2 linked regions of the Homo sapiens genome follow. The protein of the gene in region 2 purifies or fractionates together with the protein of the main gene of each other region. This does not show direct contact. Each region holds a gene or a part of one and is shown on either strand. Other genes may lie near its edges.

Region 1 (3,500 bases), on a different chromosome or scaffold from region 2:
AAACTCCGCCTCCCAGATTCACACCATTCTCCTGCCTCAGCCTCCCGAGTAGCTGGGACTACAGGCACCCGCCACCATGATTGGCTAATTTTTTTGTATTTTTAGTAGAGATGGGGTTTCGCCGTGTTAGCCAGGATGGTCTCGATCTCCTGACCTCTTGATCCGCCCGCCTTGGCCTCTGAAAGTGCTGGGATTACAGGCATGAGCCACCGCGCCCGGTCACCTATAGTGTAATTTTTAAAGTATAAGGTTGCAACCTTCATTAATTAAATGCAATAAAGTTACATTATACCTAAGTTTATGTTTCCTGTACAAGTGAAAAATGATAAAAATTTAGGCTCATATTTTATGAAGCTCAAAACAATTTTGTTGCTTGTTCCAAAGACTGTAAGAATTAGGTTTCAACATTTACTTGTAGCATATAGTTAAGTATTACGTTTAAAATCTTCTTAAAAGTTGGCTGGGCACTGTGGCTCACGCCTGTAATTCCAGCACTTTGGGGGTGCAAGGCAGGCGGATCTCTTGAGGCCAGGAGTTAGAGATCAGTCTGGTCAACATGGTGAAACCCCATCTCTGCTAAAAAATACAAAAATTAGCCGGGTGTGGTAGTGCACACCTGTAATCCCAGCTACTTAGGAGGCTGAGGCATGAGAATCACTTGAACCTGGGAGGTGGAGGTTGCAGTGAGCTGAGATAGTGCCATTGCACTCCAGCCTGGGCGACAGAGCAAGACTCCATCTCAAAAAAGAAATCTTAAAAGTTGACAGCCTGGTTGGGCACAGTGGCTCACATCTGTAATCCCAGCACTTTGGTAGGCTTAGGTGAGCAGATCACTTGAGGTCAGGAGTTGGAGACCAGCTTGGCCAACATGGTGAAACCCTGTCTGTACTAAAAAAAATTAGCCAGGTGTGGTTGCATGTGCCTGTAATCCCAGCTATTCGGGAGGCTGAGGCAGGAGAATTGCTTGAACCCAGGAGGCAAAGGTTGCAGTGAGCAGAAATGACACCACTGCTCTCCAGCTTGGGTGACACAGTGAGACTTTGTCTCAATAAATAAATAAATAAATAAATAAATAAGTTGTCGGCCAAGCACAGTGACTCAGAAACTGAGCTCATTTTCTGACTTAAACATGCCTTTTAATTTAATCTCCAGTTAATGGTAACCCTGTTCACCCATTTGCTCAAACTAGAAACCTTGGGTTCATCCTTTTTTATTTACTTGTTTGTTTGTTTATTTCTCATCCTCTGACTCTTGCTTGGGTTCATTCTTGACAATATTCCTCTCCTCACCTCTACCCCTCCAAATCAAATTGGCCAAACCTCTTGCAATTGTGCCCCACTACAGTGTAAGTTCCATCAAGAAGGCTGGGCATGGTGGCTCACACCTGTAATCCCAGCACTTTGGGAGCCCGAGGCGGGTGGAGCTCAGGAGTTCAAGGCCAGCCTGGCCAATATGGTGAAACCCCATCCCTACTAAAAATACAAAAATTAGCTGAGTGTGGTGGCAGACAGTTGTAATCCCAGCTACTCGGGAGGCTGAGGCACAGAACTGCTTGAACCTGGGAGGCAGAGGTTGCAGTGAGCTGAGATTGCACCACTGCACTCCAGCCTGGGTGACAGAGCAAGACTCTGTCTAATTAAAAAAAAAAAAATTTAGAAAAGAGAGAAGAATCAAATAGATGCAATAAAAAATGATAAAGGGGATATCACCACCGATCCCACAGAAATACAAACTACCATCAGAGAATACTACAAACACCTCTACGCAAATAAACTAGAAAATCTAGAAGAAATGGATAAATTCCTCAACACATACACCCTCCCAAGACTAAACCAGGAAGAAGTTGAATCTCTGAATAGACCAATAACAGGCTCTGAAGTTGTGGCAATAATCAATAGCTTACCAACCAAAAAAAGTCCAGGACCAGATGGATTCACAGCCGAATTCTACCGAGGTACAAAGAAGAGCTGGTACCATTCCTTCTGAAACTATTCCAATCAATAGGAAAAGAGGGACTCCTCTCTAACTCATTTTATGAGGCCAGCATCATCCTGATACCAAAGCCTGGCAGAGACACAACCAAAAAAGAGAATTTTAGACCAATATCCTTGATGAACATTGATGCAAAAATCCTCAATAAAATACTGGCAAACTGAATCCAGCAGCACATCAAAAAGCTTATCCACCATGATCAAGTGGGCTTCATCCCTGGGATGTGAGGCTGGTTCAATATACGCAAATCAATAAATGTAATCCAGCATATAAACAGAACCAAAGACAAAAACCACATGATTATTTCAATAGATGCAGAAAAGGCCTTTGACAAAATTCAACAATGCTTCATGCTAAAAACTCTCAATAAATTAGGTATTGATGGGATGTATCTCAAAATAATAAGAGCTATCTATGACAAACCCACAGCCAATATCATACTGAATGGACAAAAACTGGAAGCATTCCCTTTGAAAACTGGCACAAGACAGGGATGCCCTCTCTCACCACTCCTATTCAACATAGTGTTGGAAGTTCTGGCCAGGGCAATTAGGCAGGAGAAGGAAATAAAGGGTATTCAATTAGGAAAAGAGAAAGTCAAATTGTCCCTGTTTGCAGATGACATGATTGTATATGTAGAAAACCCCACTGTCTCAGCCCAAAATCTCCTTAAGCTGATAAGCAACTTCAGCAAAGTCTCAGGATACAAAATCAATGTGCAAAAATCACAAGCATTCTTATACACCAATAACAGACAAACAGAGAGCCAAATCATGAGTGAACTCCCATTCACAATTGCTTCAAAGAGAATAAAATACCTAGGAATCCAACTTACAAGGGAAGTGAAGGACCTCTTCAAGGAGAACTACAAACCACTGCTCAATGAAATAAAAGAGGATACAAACAAATGGAAGAACATTCCATGCTCATGCATAGGAAGAATCAATATCATGAAAATGGCCATACTGCCCAAGGTAATTTATAGATTCAATGCCATCCCCATCAAGCTACCAATGACTTTCTTCACGGAATTGGAAAAAACTACTTTAAAGTTCATATGGAACCAAAAAAGAACCCGCATCACCAAGCCAATCCTAAGCCAAAAGAACAAAGCTGGAGGCATCACGCTACCTGACTTCAAACTATACTACAAGGCTACAGTAACCAAAACAGCACGGTACTGGTACCAAAACAGAGATATAGATCAATGGAACAGGACAGAGCCCTCAGAAATAATGCCACATATCTACAACTATCTGATCTTTGACAAACCTGAGAAAAACAAGCAATGGGGAAAGGATTCCCTATTTAATAAATGGTGCTGGGAAAACTGGCTAGCCATATGTAGAAAGCTGAAACTGGATCCCTTCCTTATACCTTGTAGAAAAATTAATTCAAGATGGATTAAATACTTAAATGTTAGACCTAAAAGCATAAAAACCCTAGAAGAAAACCTAGGCAATACCATTCAGGACACAGGCATGGGCAAGGACTTCATGTCTAAAACA
Region 2 (3,500 bases):
CGGGTAAGGTCCATTTATTTCACTTTACCTGTGTGTGGCTGGGGGAGGGGGAACCATGTCACCCAAATGCAAACGGTCCAGGGTTGGTTGTGCAGAGTAAACAGGGTCCTGTTTGGATTCTGGGTGTTTCTGCATTGGGAATAGGGACAAAACCTTTGCAAATGGGAGCCTTTAAGAGGGGTGGGCAGTGTAAACAAGTGCATCTGGCAGTCCTGGTTTCTTTCTGAGGATGATATCAGGCCCAGATGTTTAGCACGGGCCAACCCAGCTTTGATCTGGAAACCTGCCACGTTATTCAAAACACTGAGAGATTCTCCGAGATAAAATCATGAGTCAGACACACGCTGCTGCATGGGATCTCAAGGCTGGAAAAGTCCGGTGCCCACTAGGCTCGGGGGTAACACAGGCCCTGGGCAGGCCCCTCCCCTGTGCCATCGCTGCTGCTATATCACGTTCATATTCAGCCTTGTTTTACAGCCACAGAAGGGAGCTGTTGGCCAAAATGTCCAAAGCGATATCCCAAGCTGTCTGCCCTTTTCTCTGTGCACATTTCCTTATGTGATCCCGGGGCAGGGGAGGGACAGGTGGACAGGCAGTCTCACCCTGAACAGGCCGCCGCAGGAAGAATTCAGAGACAAATGCAGCTTTCTACCCACCTGCTGAGCCCAGAGACCAGTGGATTAGTTCTGGGAGGGGGGTGGGGGTAAGACTAGAAGCCAGCCCCCCATGCCCCTGCTCCACTTTCTTTCCTTCTCCACTTTATTTTAAGCAGCTGCCAGCCCCACGGCACCATCAGATTGGAAACCTGCACCCTAGTGTTCACCCCCACCTGGCCTCCCCATGCTCTGCTCCCATGGGAGCTAAAGTGACGCTCTGAGAGATTGGTAAAAACACAGCCATGTTTTCTTTCATGTGCCCAGTAGGAGACATTGGCACAATTCAGAATGCTGCCCACTGGCAGTGAATGCTGCCTCAGGGCCACATGAGGGATGGAATCTCCCTGTGAGGCCCCAGCCTCCTCTGGGCCTCAGTTTCTCCTCTGCACTGTGAGCCTGTTGGACCAGATCAGTGGTTTTCACCTGAGAAGATTAAAAAATATATACCAACGCCCAGGCCTGACCCTAGAGATTCTGATTCTATTGTTCTGGGCCGGCCCAAGCATCACCATTTTGTAAAAGTTCCCCAGGAGTCTCTGATGTGCCGCTGGAGCAGAGACCCCCTGGGGTAGATGTCTCTTAAAGAGTATCATATGCAACCCCCTTACCTGTTTTCCAGAAACAGGGCCAGAGAGGGCAGGAGGCTTCCACAGAGACACCTAGCAAGTCAGGAACATTGCCGATCATTGGGACCAAGGCCAGGTTCCAGCCCCTCTCACACCCCTAGTCCTAGCTCTTTGCACAATACTACACGCCTTAATTTTTGCCTCTTCTCTGGCCCCCAAGTGCACAAAGAAAGAGGTTACAGGTCTTATCTGAAATTTTCAGGGAGGATTTTCTAAATCTGTTTACCAGAAAGTTCTCCCCAGATTTCAGTCGTCCGGGACAAAGCCTAAACCTTTTGCCCATTCAGCTTTTTGGCCAGAGACTTGCCAGGAATCAGAGAGTAGCCAGGCTAATCCACCTGCCTCAGCCTGTCCCAGAGGAGGCTTCTGGTCACTCTCTCTGTTGCCTTTCTTTGTGCAGAATATCCCCATCCCCACCCTCAAGGCATATGCAGAAGCCCTGAAAGAAAACTCATATGTGAAGAAGTTCAGCATCGTGGGGACACGGAGTAATGACCCCGTGGCGTATGTATGTACCTTTCTGTTCTGTTGCATTGTGGCTGGGGGCCTTGAAACAGAAGGGTTGAAATATGTGGCCTCAGGACTGGTTGTATCCCACTAACAAAGAGCTCTATGTGGTACAGTGGAAGGCATTGGACCAGGAGCCATGAGGGGTGTAGAGGGAACAGCCATCACCTGGCACCACCTACACGTCATCCTGGCCAATCCTCACACCCACTTCTGGTCTCAGATGTGCAGTTCTCCCCACTTTGCACTTAAAAAATCTAGGGTTCGGAGAGGTCAGGCAACTTGTTTTGTCCAGTCACACAGCAAGTGAGAGGTGGACCTGCAAGTCCAGTGCAGTCACGTGACCCCTAAATCTTCACTCGGCACATCATATTAGAACAAGAGCCTGCCCTTCCCTGTTCCTCAGTTTTTCCATCTCTAAAATCAATGGTTTTGGTTGGGCGCAGTGGCTCACACCTGCAATTCCAGCACTTTGGGAGGTCAAGACGGGTGGATCACTTGAGGTCAGAAGTTCGAGACCAGCCTGGCCAACATGGTGAAACCCCGTCTCTACTAAAAGTATAAAAATTACCTGGGCTTGGTGGTGCATGCCTGTAATCCCAGCTACTCGGGAGGCTGAAGCAGGAGAAGCACTTGAGCCCAGGAGGCGGAGGTTGTAGTGAGCCGAGATTGCACCACTATACTCCAGCTTGGGCGACAGAGCGAGGCTCCATCACAAAATAAATAAATAAATAAATAAAAATTTAAAAAAATAAAAATGATGGTTTCATCAGCAGGTCCCAATGACCAATTTTATTTTATAAGTCTCAAAAGATATTTCTGATCAAATTAAATTGTACTTACTCTGAAGTAGCCATCAACTCTTCTTTTTAAACATCCAGCACATATGTATTGAGAGTCTCTCTGTGCCCAACGCTGAATTAGGTTCTGGGAATACAATTGTGACCAGTCTCAGCTTCCACTTTCATAAAGATTCTGGTCCATTTGGCCAAGCAGACAACTAAAGGGTAACAGTACAGTGCAATTACTGCAAAGCTAGATTCCTGCAAGAAGGGCAGAAGCTAGTTTATCAGGGCTAGTAATTAACCATTTAGTAGCAATCGATTTTTTTCTGATTCTTAAAATAGGTAAGACAGTGTTCTTTCATATTTTTGAAATAATAGAAATAGCTCACAGTCTCTCATTGCTGTCAGTGGGGAACCTCTGGATTGATGACCTCTGACCTCAGATCTCCATGGTTCCTTGCCCATAGGAACACAGCTGGCAAAGCCACATGCCCTGTATGCTACTATGTCATGGGTCAGAAACCAAGCACATCCATTCTGGCCCTCAGCTCAGGTCCACAAATGTTTTTTGGGCATGGACTCTGCCAGACCAACAGCTGATATCAGCCTATGCACACCAGTATGCCCGTGTCAAACACTGAGATGCTTCTGGGCCAGTTGGTAAATCAGGCTGCCAGAGCTCTGTCAGGGCCCCCACCGCCTGCCCTAGCTTTTCTCCTGGCCCCGGTTCCTCCACTGGGACCCAGCATACAAGGAGTTAACACCTGGCAAGACAGGGCCTCCAGGACCTGCTCAGCCACCAGCATGTCCAGTTGGATCAGCCTAGCAGGTTGCCTACTGGTTGTTATTTTGATTTTTTTTATTAGATTTGATTAAGCCAGGCCAGGCCTTTCCTGGGAGCAGGAAGGTTCTGGTGGAAGACACAG

Evidence for each region. Proteins that work in one complex are often made in the same cells at the same time.
Region 1: the proteins of TMOD1 (region 2) and NEXN purify together in Homo sapiens (co-immunoprecipitation; one large-scale study listed by IntAct). This does not show direct contact.

What each region holds. Positions count from the first base shown.
Region 1 is NC_000001.11:77,895,124-77,898,623, forward strand, and holds part of NEXN (nexilin), read left to right. Parts: intron 1-3,500. UniProt on the Homo sapiens protein: Involved in regulating cell migration through association with the actin cytoskeleton. Has an essential role in the maintenance of Z line and sarcomere integrity.
Region 2 is NC_000009.12:97,564,166-97,567,665, forward strand, and holds part of TMOD1 (tropomodulin-1), read left to right. Parts: coding exon 1-3; intron 4-1,682; coding exon 1,683-1,790; intron 1,791-3,500. UniProt on the Homo sapiens protein: Blocks the elongation and depolymerization of the actin filaments at the pointed end. The Tmod/TM complex contributes to the formation of the short actin protofilament, which in turn defines the geometry of the membrane skeleton.